Regions from separate parts of the Homo sapiens genome. Here region 2 is linked to region 1. The links come from fine-mapping of genetic effects on gene expression. Tissue or cell type: whole blood. Region 1 holds a variant in brackets; the other region holds the start of a gene. All regions are shown on one strand. Distances are between the middles of the regions.

Region 1 (7,326 bases):
TGGCATTTCCTGTGAGAAATTCTAGAAAACTGATAATCCAGCTTCTTCAACAAAAACACTGTAGAAGAGTCGGGCACGGTGACTCACGCCTATAATCCCAGCACTTTGGGAGGCTGAGGTGGGCAGATCACCTGAGGTCAGGAGTTCGAGACCAGCCTGACCCACATGGAGCAACCCTGTCTCTACTAAAAATACAAAATTAGCCAGGTGTGGTGGCACATGCCTGTAATTCCAGCTACTTGGGAGGCTGAGGCAGGAGAATTGCTTGAACCCAGGAGGAGGCAGAGGTTGCAGTGAGCCGAGATTGCACCATTGCACTCCAGCCTGGGCAACAAGAGCGAAACTCCATCCAAAAAAAAAAAAAGCCACTGTAGAAAAAAAGGGAAAGGGGAAAAAAAGATAAAAATTGATGAGGCCGGGCATGGTGGCTCACACCTGTATTCCCACCACTTCAGGAGGCCGAGGGGGGTGGATCACCTGAGGTCAAGAGTTCAAAATCAGCTTGGCCTACATGGTGAAGCCCTGTCTCTACTAAAAATACAAAAATTAGTCGGGCGTGGGGGTGCACACCTGTTATTTCCAGCTATTCGGGAGGATGAGGCAGGAGAATGTCTTGAACCTGGGAGCCAGAGGTTGCAGTGAGCCAAGATTGTGCCACTGCATGCCAGCCTGGGTGACAGAATAAGACTCAGTCTCAAAAAAAAGTTGATTGAAGGGACCCATCACTTAAATGCAACATATGAATCTTGTCTATATCCTAATTTGAACAAACCAACTGGGAGAGAAAAAGATTTAGGAGACAACGAAGGAAACCTGAACACGGACATATTGATAATAAGACATTATCATCTTTGGTCTGGGCATGGCGGCTCACGCCTGTAATCTCAGCTCTTTGATTTGGGAGGCCGAGGTGGGTGGATTGCTTGAGTCCAAGAGTTCAAGACCAGCCTGGTCAACATAGTGAGATTCCGTCTCTAAAAAAAAAATTAAAAAAAAGAAACAATAAAAAAAATAAAAAGAAATTATATTTTTAGATGTGAAAATATTATTGTAGTTATGTTAAAAAAGAGTCTTTACCTTGCAGATACCTAATGATAAATCTATGTCTGAAGTAATAAACTCTTTAGGATTTGCTTCAAAATAATCCAGTGGGGGGAACAGGTTGGGGTACACAAGAAATAAGGTCGGTAATTACCTAATAAAAAACGAGGTTCATTATACTAGCTTTTTATTTTTGCAAATTTTGAAATATTCTACAATAACAGTTTCTTAAAATATTCAAAAAATTTCCAGAGTATGCTTTTAGAGGAGGGAGGGGGGAAGAGGGCCCTCCAGTGGGCAGAGCACGAAGAACTGGTAGTGCGGGATTCTGGACTGGGAACGCTGTCATTCAGCCGGGCTATCCCGTAGGCGTGGAGGCCTGGAAATGCAGGTTGGGTCAGATGATGGGGGGCTGAAAAATTTCCACTCAATCCCATCGTCAGTAAAGACAGTCCCGAAGGTGGTAACAGCCACAGCCACAATTCAATAGCAGCCATTCTTAATTTGGTTCTTATCACGCGCCAGGCTTTATGCCAAGTGCTTTGCATATATTATCTCAGTTGATCCGCAAAACAAACCTATTAGGTTGGCATCATTATCCCCATATTACAAACAAAGAAATTGAATCTCAGAGAGATAAGTACAGTCATGCTCTGTATAATGACGTTTCGGTCAACAACAGACGGCATAAACAACAGTGGTCCCAAAAGATTATATCATATTTGTACTGTACCTTTTCTATGTTTAGAAACACAAATGCTTATTGTGTTACAGTTGCCTGCAGCATTCAGTCCAGTGACATGCTGGGCAGGTTTGCAGCCTAAGAGCCATAAGCTATACCACACAGCCTAGGTGTGGAGTAGGCGATACGATAAAGGTTTGTGTAAGTGCACTCTGCTGTTCTTCATTTCTCAAAACGTATCTCCACCATTAAGTGATGACGGAGACTGTAATCTGTTCAAGCTCACACAGCCAGGACCCGGCAGAGCCAGGATTGAACCCGTACCTGCATTATCCCTGCTTTAACTGGTGTAATTTGGCCTTCACTTGCTTTATAACCTACTGTTTCATTTAAGACTTTGCTTGAAAAAAAAAATGTTTCCATTCCTTAAAAAATGTTTGGAAACCACTGCTAAGTATCCGCTGGAGGCATTTAAGGTGGTACAACTTAGCGGTTAGAATATGAGTTATAAAATCAGTCAGACCTGATTTCAAATTCTGTTCCTACCACTTTACTAGCTACGTGACCTCTGGGTGGCTACTCTGTCAGGGCCAAAGTTTCATCATTTGTAAAGTGGGAATAATAGCAATACTTCACAAGGGTTTAGAAAACCTCAGTAAATGTTAGCCTAGATTTTTTCATGTTAATAAAAGGTAGCTGTTATTATTATGCTATAAAACTCCACTTAGATAATGACTCAGATAGAGTCATACTTAGAGAAATAATATTTGCAACTGTATTCACTTGCTCTCTTCTGACAGATGAGGAAACTGAGGCCCATAAAGATGAAGTGACTTTCCTAAGAGCACCCACAGAAGAAATAGCAGAGCCAGGCTTTCAACTCAGGTTCTATTAGATTTCAGAGCCCTAGAATTTTTAACTATTTTAGTTTCTTGTGTTGGCTGGGTGCAGTGGTTCACATCTATAATCCTAGTGCTTTGGGAGGCCAAGGCAGGTGGATCATTTGAGGCCAAGAGTTCAAGACCAGCCTCTGCAAGATAGTGAGACCCCTGTTTCTCCAAAAAATCATGAAAAAATTAGCCAGGCATGGTGGTGCATGCTTGTAGCCCCAGCTACTTGGGAGGCTGAGGTGAGAGGATCACTTAGCCCAAGGAGTTCAAGGCTACAGTGAGCTATGATGGCAACACTACACTCCAGTCTGAACCAGACCCTGGCTTAAAAAAAAAAAAAAAAAGCGGGGGGGAGGGGCAGGGGTGGGCATGGTGGCTCATGCCTGTAATCCCAGCACTTTGGGAGGCTGAGGCAGGTGGATCACGAGGTCAGGTGTCCAAGACCAGCCTGGCCAACATAGTGAAACCCTGTGTCTACTAAAAATACAAAAAATTAGCTGGGTGTAGTGGCAGGCACCTGTAATCGCAGCTACTCAGGAGGCTGAGGCAGGAGAATCGCTTGAACCCGGTGGAGGTTGCAGTGAGCTGAGAGCCAAGATCATGCTACTGAACTCCAGCCTGGGCGATAGAGCG[A/C]GACTCTGTCTCAAAAAAAAAAAACAATGGATGTGTAAAATAGGGTGGACCACATGGTGGAATGGTAGCTGTCCAGCAATAAAATAAGAGCGCAGTCCGGGTGTGGTGGCTCACATCTGAAATCCCAGCACTTTGGGAGGCTGAGGTGGGCAGACCAAGAGGTCAGGAGTTCAAGACCAGCCTGACCAACATGGTAAAACCCTATCTCTACTAAAAATACAAAAATTAGCCAGGCGTGGTGGCATGTGTCTGTAATCTCAGCTACTCAGGAGGCTAATGTAGGAGAATGGTGTGAACCCAGGAGGCGGAGGTTTCAGTGAGCCGAGATTACACCACTGCACTCCAGTCTGGGCAACAGAGCAAGGCTCCGTCTTAAATAATTAAAAAAAAAAAACAATTGAGGAATGTGTACACAGGAGTTTGTTAATATGGTTTCTCATATCTTTATGTGTGTTTGAAATACTTCATAGCATAACATTTTATTTTATTTATTTTTGACACTGAATCTCACACTGTCACTCAGGCCAGAGTGCAGTGACACAAACATAGCTCACTGTAGCTTCGACCTCCTGGGCTCAAGCAATCCTCCTGCCTCAGCCTTCTGTGTAGCTGGGACTTCAAGTGCATGCCAACACGCCTGACTAATTTTTAAAATTTTTTGTAGAGATGGGGTCTCACTATGTTGTCCAGGCTGGTCCTGAACTCCTGGGCTCAACTCATCCTCCTGCCTCAGCCTTCCAAAGTGTTGGGATTATAGTAGTGAGCCACCATGCCCAGCCTAACATAATATTTTAAGGCAACCACAATAAAGACACCTTAACTTCAATCTGTCCAAAGCCATTCAGCTGTGAGGGACAAGGTTGAGAATTCTGGTGGCTGACGGGGTGCTCTTCATGTTACCTCCTAAACATAGTCCCTCCTGAGAGCCTGATTTACTTCATTACAAACCCCAACAATGGCGGCACTGTGGAGGCGGCCCGAGAACTTCAACAGGGTGAAATGGCCTCAGATGCTCCTGAGAAATGAACACAGCACCCCGCCCTTGATGACTATCATCCCATTAAGACCTCCCACTACATTTTCTGACACCCAACAGACCAACTGACCACAACATTCCTGGGTTCTCCTCCCCTAAATCAATGACAACCCAAACAAACAAAAATCCCCATGGCTCTCCCATGGAAAGATGCCTCATTTCCCTCACCTGCACCTGAGTCTACTTCCCAGGCTGGTGACCTGAGGTAATGCTCCTTAGCGCCCCCTACAGCAAGTGACCGCTTTTGTATTTAGCCTCCTACTGAGCCTCTATCACCCCTCCCCGAAAGCCCTTTTTATGTTAAATCAGTTCATGCTCTCCCTCTATTCTCTACTCTCTACCCTCCCATGATTTCCCATTACTTCGTAATAAAACCCCATAGATTTTACTATGGGCTTCATCTCCTACCTCCCCCTCCCATCTTGATCACTTTGCTCCAGCCCTCTGCACCCCATTCCAGCCTCCTCAAGGGCTCTTCAAAAGGCCACGTTCCCTCTGCCTGCATGACTCATTCCCTTCTTCCCTTGCTCCCTCACTTCATCCAGGTCTCTGTGGCAATGACACCTCCTCCAAGAGGCCTTGCCAGTCTGATTATTCAACGTAATCTTGTTTTATTTGTTGTTCTAGCCAGAAACCCTCGCACATTATGAAAAACCTCACTCCCCATACAGAGCACCCCTCATCACTCATTCCCAATGTAGCATCAGGGATGGAGCCTGGATGTCCCTCCAGCACTGGTGATCTGATGAGAAAATCTCTCAGGACGTCCAGTTATCACAGATTCCTCTTGTGGCTTATTCTCAGGGTCATCCTGCTTACTAATTCCTAACAGAACATCTGGGGCCCCTCTCCAATAGGGGCAGAAACTAGGAAGACTTTCAATTTTCACTCCTTAAGTTATCTCGAGATGAGATTTTTCAGAGTCACAGAGGTAGGCTAACTGGATTGGGACCACGAAGTGTCATTCACTGTACAACTTAAAAACTGTGTCTCATTGGCCAGGTGCAGTGGCTCGCACCTGTAATGCCAGCACTTCGGGAGGCCGAGGTGGGTGGATCACCTGAGGTCAGGAGTTCGACACCAGCCTGGCCAACATGAGGAAACCCTGTCTCTACTAAAAACACAAAAATTAGCTCGGCATGGTGGCACGTGCCTGGAGCTACTCAGGAGGCTGAGATAGGAGAATCGCTTGAATCCAAGAGGCGGAGGTTGCAGTGAGCCGAGATCGTGCCACTACACTCCAGTGTGGGCGACAGAGCAAGACGCCATCTCAAAAAAAAAAAAATTATCTCTCATTAACAGGTCACCTCGTTATTTCTTATAAATCCGATCATCTGCACAACTGTATTGACCTGAGTATATTTTTGTATCATTCATTCAATGTAAATATTTAGAACACAGCACAATTTTTGGAAAAAATTTTGCTGTTGCATCTGTTCATTTCTCAGCATTTCATTCTCAGTATTCAGTTTCTCAATGAAACCTCCCAAAACCTTACTGGACTTCAGAGAAGCCTTGTCCGGCTGCCTTCCCAAGAAGACCCTGCCTAGGAATAAAATTTCCTCTCCTTGAGGCCCAAATTCACAGTTCTTACTATTTGTGGATAAGTCAATTTTCAGTTCCAACTTGATTTCCAGTTCAATGCTGACTCCTCTGGTCCTCTTGGCTCCATGGTGTGGGCAGGATCCAGAGCTTCAAAATTTACATCCATCACTCTTCTCAGCAGGAACACCTCAGCCCCAACTTCTGCTTCCCTTCTGTCCTCATGCACTTCCAGTCGGGGCTAATGTGCGCATGCGTCCTGGTTCTGGACGCTCTTTTTTTTTTTTGAGATGGAATTTCACTCTTGTTGCCCAGGCTGGAGTGCAATGGTGCAATCTCAACTCCCGGGTTCAAGCGATTCTCCTGCCTCAGCCTCCTGAGTAGCTGGGATTACAGGCATGCACCACCATGCCCGGCTAATTTTGTATTTTTAGTAGAGACAGGGTTTTTCCATGTTGGTCAGGCTGGTCTCGAACTCCTGACCTCAAGTGATCCACTCACCTCGGCCTCCCAAAGTGTTGGGATTACAGGCATGAGCCACCGCTCCTGGCCCGGACGCTCTCTTTTTACCGTCCACTTCTTCTAACACGCTCCCTGAGGTGCCTCAGCCCCTGGGAGGCATTCCTGGCCTTTTGTCACACCTGTTTTGTTTGAGCCACTGCACCGATAGGCACCTTGAGGCCTCGCGGGAGGACGGCCCTCCCTTCCCTGTGTGCAGGCCCTGAAGGGAGCACCACATGGAGACAGGTACAGAAAAGGCGGGAAAGCAGAGATGCAGTGTCTGGGGCTTTGAGGCTGGGTCTTGAAGGGCAAGCCCGTGAGTCCCCGAATAGCGACGAAGCCGCTGAGCTTCTCAGAACCCAGAAAAGGTATAGAGGAGGAGCTCACATGCACACATACACACCCCAATCCATCCATCTGTCATCTATTCATATCTTTATTAACCAATTACATGTTGGGATGATAATCCTCTGAACATGTTGGTTTAAATAAAATATATTAATTTCGTCTGTTTCTTTTTACTTCTTTTAATTTGATTATTAGACAATTAAAAATTTTTAAATGGTGCCTGGAGCTACTCGGGAGGCTGAGGCAGGAGAATCGCTTGAATCCAAGAGGCTTGGATTTTTTAAAAAATAGCTTACATTACATTTCTTTCTTTTAATTTTTTAAAGTTATTTTATTTTTTTTTATTTTTTTGAGACAGAGTTTCGCTCTTGACACCCAGGCTGGAGTGCAATGGTACCATCTCTGCTCACTGTAACCTCCACCTCCTGGGTTCAAGTGATTCTCCTGTCTCAGCCTCCTGAGTAGCTGAGATTACGAGCGCCAGCCACCACGCCCAGCTAATGTTTGTATTTTTAGTAAAGATGGGGTTTCACCATGTTGGTCAGGCTGGTCTCAAACTCCTGACTTCAGGTGATCCACCTGCTTTGGCCTCCCAGATTGCTGGGATTACAGGCGTGAGCCACCACCCCCGGCCCCTTTTAATTTTTGTAGAG
Region 2 (7,326 bases), 29 kb after region 1:
GCTCTCACTTCCTTTGCCCACACCACCTCTTTATCTTAAGATGTTTCTGTGGTTTCAGATGCATCACTTTTCCCCTTTGCTGCTGAATCTGGTTCTCTCTCCTATTTTTGCCCTCCCTGTGCTTGCAGCAGTGTTACAAAAATTGTGGACATTCACTTCAGAGTTTTATCATCTTTATTTTCAATTTGCTAGACCAGGTTGCTTTCCCCTGTATGAGGGAGTGCCAATCTCTGATTGCTGGGTACCAAACCACATCCTGGCCTGTGTGGGGTACCATGGAGGAAGGAGATAAGACCCAGACCCCTGGCAGCTCCCAGTTTAGCAGGGGAGACAAGACAACACATGAAAACAAACAGAGCACATCAAAAAGGCAACAGGTCAAACCAATGCAGGGAAACCCCTATCATTAAAGGTCTAAGCCCTGAGGCCTCCCTGCTCATCTCCAGGCTCAGAACCTTTCTGAGTCTTCTTTGACCTCATTTAGTATTTCTCTTCCATCTCTCTCTTGTTGGTTTATCTCCAGGATCAACCGCTAGAGCAGTGTCTAGGTGTTGCTTTGAAGCTTGTATCGAGATTTCTCTAGGACTCTCTGCTTCAGCCTGGCCATCCCCAACTACCAGCCACATCACAAGGACTGGACTTGTGTTAGCTACGCTGCTTCTCCAGCCTGAAGGTGCTTCTTTTTTTTTTTTTTTTTTTTTTTAAATGGAGTCTTGCTCTGTCGCTAGGCTGGAGTGCAGTGGCGTGATCTCAGCTCACTGCAACCTCCAACTCCCGGGTTCAAGGATTCTCCTGCCTCAGCCTCCAGAGTAGCTGGGATTATAGGCATGTGCCACCATGCCCAGCTAATTTTTTTGTATTTTTAGTAGAGACGGGGTTTTCCCATGTTGACCAGGATGTTCTCAATCTCCCGACCTCAAGTGATCCACCTGCCTCAGCCTCCCAAAGTTCTGGGATTATAGGCATGAGCCACCACACCCGGCAGGTGCTTCTATACCTAACTACTTCTTCGTGCATCTCTGACTTATGCTCCTTTGAGTAGGACAATTCAGTCAGGAAGGGATACCAAGCTGGTGAAAGGCATTTTTTTCAAAGTCGCAGTCCTGGGCTGGGTCTAAGGATTTCTGAATCTGGATGGGAGCCTTCCTGCTCCGCCTCTCCCAGGCTTCCCAGCTCCTGTGTAACCCAGGCGACCTCTGAAGGTCCAGGGAAACTGCTACTCTGTAGTGAAGTCCGAACTTGGCATCCCTTCTCCTTGACCCACACCCCTGTCCTCATTTGTCCCCTCTGCTGTGTCTTTGCCTCTGCGTCCCAACAGGGAGGAGCCCTGATTCCGCAGCACCTGCAGCCCTCTCCCAAATGCCCTGCGCACCACTGAAGAAGAGAAATAGAAGAGCAGGGGGTCCAGACTGGCGTTGAGTGAACTGAACACCACGGCTATTGACCGCCACCAGGGGCTTTTTCTCTGGTGATACCCCACCAGGTGGGACACGTTGTAAGGTCCGAAGCACACCAGGAAATTGAGCAGCGTCACCACAGCCAGCCCCACGGCTCGGCGCCGCCTCTGGGCCCCCACAAGGGGCTGGGAGAGCATGATCCACACAAAACGCCAGTAGCAGAAGATGGTGACTGCCATGGGGATGAAGAAGAGCACCAGGCACAGCTCCAGCCGCACGGGCAGCACCACGTCCAACTGGTTATCGGTGAAGTTCTCGTAGCAGGTAATTTCATTGCCACTTCTGACCTGCTCAGTCGTGTTCAAGTATTGAACGATGATCACGATGGTGCAGTGACCAAAGGACATAACCCAGGCCACCAGAGCTGCAATCACTCCATACAGAGGCCGGCGGGAGAGCTTGTACTGCACGGGGAAAGCCACTCCCAGGTAGCGCTCGATGCTGATGCCCGCCAGGAGCCACGTGCTGCAGTAGATGCTGCTGTAGAAGCCAAAACTCGTGAGGGCGCAGACGACCTTGGGCAGGTACCAGCGGAAGTTCGACGCAGCCTCGATGATCTTGAAGGGCAGCAGCAGCAGCAGGAGGAGGTCGGCCAGCGTCAGGCTCAGCAGGAGGATGTGCACAGGTGCAGGCTGGGGCTGGCGGATCCGCCCCACAAAGGCCCGCAGGGCCAGGAGGTTGGCAGGGAGGCCAGTGAGGAAGATGATGATGTAAGCCATGAGGATCAAGGAGCTCTTCCAGTCCGGCAGCATCCTGGAGGGGAACAAAAAAGGGCGGGGTCAGGGAGGTCTCACTCACAGCCCGCGCAGCCAGCTCTCCTTCAGGATGCGGACATCCTCCCCGGCACCGTCCCCTTCCCAGGACTGTGCTTTCTGATGCCACCACGGCTTGCTCACACCACCTGCTCGAACTACCCAGAGCAATTATTGACTTTGCCTGGGGCGGGATATTAAGCAGTAGTGATTATGTTTGCCATCATGTGTCTCTGGAGGAGACCAACTCGTGGCTTCCCAAGGGAATTCCCCCTCCAGTTTCCCTAGCCTTTCTCCTCCTGTCCTCACAGATACAGGAAGTTACTGTTGCCAGTTTCTAACTTTACTCAAGTCCCTTTCTCAGACAGAGACCTGCAGGAGAGAAAGGCATCAGTGCCGGGAGAGAGCTGTAAGATGCTTATCAGTATAAAGAGGCTGTGGCGCCCCAGGCGCGGATACCCAGTGCCAGCTCTCCAAAGGACCCAAGTGCCCAGCCACCAGCCCAGCTTCCTACTTCCGTTCGTCTGTTTTGCAGAGCACAGATTCTCCCCCACCTTGTCCTCTCCTGTCCAACACCAAACTCTGGGACTCTCTAGAAAAGGGGAAGCTGGGGCTGGGCGCAGTGGCTCACTTCTGTAATCCCAGCACTTTGGGAGGCCGAGGCGGGCAGATCACCTGAAGTCAGGAGTTCGAAACAAGCCTGGCCAACGTGGTGAAACCCCATCTCCACTAAAAAAAAAAAAAATTAGCCGGGTGATATGGCGGGCACCTGTAATCCCAGCTACTTGGTAGGCTGAGGCAGGAGAATCGCTTGAACCGGGAAGCAGAGGTTGCAGTGAGTCAAGATTGCGCCATTGCACTCCACCCTGGGCGGTAAGAGCAAAAACTCCGTCTAAAAAAAAAAAAAAAGAAAAGAAAAGGGGAAGCTGGGAGGCTTAGAGGAGGGTGGAGGGGAAGAAGGATGAACCAGCACTAGCCTTAGGAGGAAGGCTTGTCCCTAGAAGACCTTAGAGAAATATTCAGAAAAGCCCACAGGCCTTCACTGGCCCTTGAGCGTGGCATTCTGACCATAAATAGAACTCGTCTTCTTCACGGGGTAACTCAGTTTCCACTTGGGGTGTCACCCTTGCTGGCCCCAACCCAGGTCCTGTCCCTCTGTCCACTCTCCAGCCTTGATTTCCTGGCTGTTTCCTTGCTCCTCACACTAGCTCCTGTCTCTGGGTATGAGTCTTCCATTTGGTTCTGACATCCTTCCTCCAGTCTCCCAGAACCTTCCCCTCAAACCTGATCCTGGCCTCTCTTCCCAGAGCACAAGCACTACACTAGCTGCCTTGCCTTGTGTTGTTCCGGATAGGTGGCTTCTTGGGATTGGTTCTGAAGGGAGGTCTGCAAGCTTCCAGGAGAGAGGAACAGAGCTTTAGCCCCTGCTTCTGTCCATGCCATGCAGGAAAAAATGGTGAGGAACCTGGCTGGTAGTAAGCATTTATACTAGCACCAGCCACGTGACCAGAGAAAGGAAGGTCAGTCTTTAAGCACTATTTCCTCTCAAACCCAAAGGAAAGGCCCAGCATCTTTATTCTCTCCCTAGAGAATCCTCACTCTTGACTTCCAAATTCAGATTTTTCTGTCCTTAATTCCTGATTTAAAAAAAAAATTCCCAGGCATTTTTCTTTTTTTACTTCCCAAGTCAGATTATTTTCTTTTCTCTTTCTTAGGCAGTTTCTTCTGTCATTCTGCTCATTCTCAGAAATGAGCTTTCCTCCTTCCTTTTTATTTTTCCTCTTTTTTTTTGGTTTTTTTTTTCGAGGCTGAATCTTGCTCTGTTGTCTAGGCTGGAGTGCAGTGGCGCCATCTCAGCTCACTGCAACCTCTGCCTCCCGAGTCCAAGCGATTCTCCTGCGTCAGCCTCCCTGGGATGACAGGCACCTGCCACCACGCCCAGCTAATTTCTGTATTTTTAGTAGAGACAGGGTTTCACCATGTTGGCTGGTCTTGCACTCCTGACCTCAAGTGATCCGCCTGCCTTGGCCTCCCAAAGTGCTGCGATTACAGGCGTGAGCCACTGCACCCGGCACTCCTTCCTTTTCTTCTTCAATTTTTTTACTTTCTCTATGGTCTCCTGCCCTCTGCCCCCAACACATTTCTTTTGCCCGTCTCAGCTGAAACAGGCTGGTCCTGGCCTGCATCTTGTTGTGATGGAAATGGTGTGGGAGTTATAGTCATGCAGATATGGGCTCAAATCCAGGTCCCTTCATTACAACCTTGGGGGCAGATCCGTTTTCTGAAGTCTAGTTTGCTGTAGTCAAGTGAGCATGCGAATTCTGACATCCTAGGACTTCTGCGAGGATTCAGTGAGGTTGTGTATATAAAGCACTTAGCAGATGCCCGTAAGTGCTGCCTCGTCTCAAGCCTGTAACGCAGCTTCACAGAGAGTGAGCCACTTGGTGCAGCCTCCAGAGGCTCAGGGCATGGATGTGCTGTCCCTCTTGGGAAAGTGTCAGGAATTCAGGAGGCCCGAGTTCACGTGCCCATGTGGCTTTTCGTCAGGGAGTGGCACTCAGGCTCCATTCCTTTCCCTGATAAAGTCTCACTGTTTCCCCCTCTCTGACCTTGGTAGCCCCAGGTTAGGAGCTCCTGAAGGTCCCTTTGAAATACACACCTAATGCAGCAAGGATCGTTGGAACGTGTTTTCCTCTTGAACTAGGGAGGAAGTCTCAGAAAGAAGTCTCTGTTCTGCCATCTGTGGCCTGATTCCTGCTCACAGAATCCCCATTCTTTCCCTAGGACATACCTACTTCCTATTGTTTGCCATTCATTCAGTCATTCAGTCAGTCAGTCATTTATTCTTTTTGTGGTCTGTAACCCCAGGGTCTAGACATTTTGATATTTAGCTTTTCTTTCTCGTCCACTCTACTCTCCTCTGAAGGCGTTCTAGTTCTTTATTTCCTTCCCCCAGCACACGTCGCTTCTCAGATCAACAGGAGAACTAAGAAAGAGACCATTCTCTCTTGTTGCCACCAAATTTATTTGTGTCATTTCGCTTTTATGATTTCCTATAAACATGCACGAGGATCTGGATTTAATTGCAGAATCCAGGAAACTCATTGGAAAACAAGTGTTGAGGAGTGGGACTGCCTCTCTGTCTCTGCACGTTCTTCTCCCCCCACCTCCTGCCTTTCGCCGTCACTGTCGTGAGTCCCCCTGTGGAAGACGCCCCAACGAAACCCCCTCTCTGGGTTCACAGCAGTTATGAATGTTCACCGCAGTTATGAAGGGAGCATCACCAAGGAGGCTTTCAGTCTCACAGTTCATGATGTCCACCTACGTCACAGGAAAAGGAAACCCAACCTCTCAGACCGAGTTCAAGGGGGTAAACTTTCACAAGAGCAATATCCTTCACAGTTCCTTCCAAGTTCAGTTTTCTCTCATCGTCTTTATAATGCAGCCTGTCATCACAGGAAGTTGGACCCTTATCTAAAGTTCTGTGTAATCACTTCCACATTCTTAATTCTCACTCGCCCCTCAGTCCACCCTAATCTGGGTTCTGTGCCTATTTTCCATGGGATTTTCTCTTCCCGATGTTAGCAGTGACCTCCATGTTCCTAAATTCAGTGGACTTACGCTTTTCTTATTTTATTAGCATTCAACACAATTTCCACGCCCTTCTGGAAACATCCTCTTTTCACAAATTCTGATACGTTACGCTGCTAGCTTCCCTCTCTTTCCTTTGGTCACTTCTCGTACCCCTTTGCTAGCTCACCATTCCCCTACTCATCCCCGAAATGGTGACTTCCTTCAAGCTTGGCTCCAGGTTCTTTCCTGTTCTCGCCTGTGCTCTCCTTCTAGTCGACTGCAACTGTTTCCGTAGTTCCAGTTACCACCTTCATGACACCCCTGGTTTGAATCTTCACCCTAGGTTTCTGTGAGCTTCACATGTACACGCTCAACTGCCTAGTTGACACTGCCATTGGGTGTCTCACAGGTGTCCCAAATCAACCAAATCAAATGTGTCCAGACCTGGCCTCAGATCTTCCTTCTTCCACCCTTCCCTGTCTTGGGGCGTAAGATCTCTTCCCATCACATCTCCTGCACCATTATCTTAGAGTCAGTCTTTTTTTTTTTTCTTTTTAATTTCGAGACTGAATCTCACTCTGTCGCCCAGGCTGGAGTGCAGTGGCACATAGTCTCGGCTCACTGCCACCTCTGCCTCCCAGATTCAAGCAATTCTCATGCCTCAGCCTCCCGAGTAGCTGGGATTACAGGCATGTGCCACCACACTCGGCTAATTTTTGTATTTTTAGTAGAAACGGGGTTTCACCATGTTGGTCAGGCTGGTCTCGAACTCCTGACCTCAAGTGATTCGCCCGCCTTGGCCTCCCAAAGTGCTGGGATTATAGGCGTGAGCCACTGAGCCTGACTAGAGTCAGTCTTAAAGTGAATCTCAATATTATCTTCTTCCTTATCCCTAGAATGCAGTCTGATGTACTCCCCAAATACTTATGGATTCCAAATATGAATCCATCCATCCGTCTCCATCTCCATCATCCCATCTCAGTGCCATCATCCCTACCAGGATTTCAGCAGGGCCCTGACTCACTTCCTCTCATCCATCTGCTTCCCTGGCAGTCAGTTCTCCATACTGTATTAGTGGAATCATTTTAAAAATGTCAATCCAATTATACGACCTTCTTGTCCTTTCAGAGACTTCTCACTGCTTTTAGGAGAAATATCAACATCCTTAAAAAGGCCTGCCTAGCATGGCCCTTGCCAGCTTCCACTCACATCACTCTTCTCTCTCTTTGCTGTCTGGGCAGGGCCATTTTCCACTTCTGTGAATGTGTCATGTTTTCCATCTGCCATGGGGAGCTTGAACCAGCCCCTGCCTGGTATGTCTTTATTTCTTGTTACCCATTCCAACTTTCACAGTTAATTTGTAGCTTTCTTTCAGATAACCATTTACTTCCTTAAGAAATCCCTGTCTGGCTGGGCACAGTGGTTCACACCTGTAATCCCAGCACTTTGGGAGGCCGAGGCAGGTGGATTACCTGAGGTAAGGAGTTCGAGACCAGCCTGGCCAACATGGCGAAATCCCGTCTCTACTAAATATACAAAAATTA

Evidence for each region. PIP is the estimated chance that this variant, and not a neighbour inherited with it, causes the effect. A credible set is the group of variants that fine-mapping cannot tell apart.
Region 2: it holds the start of FFAR2, and the variant in region 1 is the best candidate, but not a certain one, in a credible set for the expression of FFAR2 in whole blood (INTERVAL, PIP 0.72).

The regions. Positions count from the first base shown.
Region 1 is chr19:35,473,545-35,480,870 of GRCh38, reverse strand. No RefSeq gene overlaps it. Among named protein-coding and RNA genes, the nearest start is that of KRTDAP, 13 kb to the left of the region's middle. The variant A/C (reference allele first, on the strand shown) is at 3,247.
Region 2 is chr19:35,444,598-35,451,923 of GRCh38, reverse strand. FFAR2 (free fatty acid receptor 2) reads right to left here and starts at 3,667. Exons shown (of 2, transcript NM_001370087.1): 1 at 3,545-3,667; 2 at 157-2,210. The coding sequence starts at 2,209. The coding sequence ends at 1,217. RefSeq lists an enhancer at 5,631-5,710.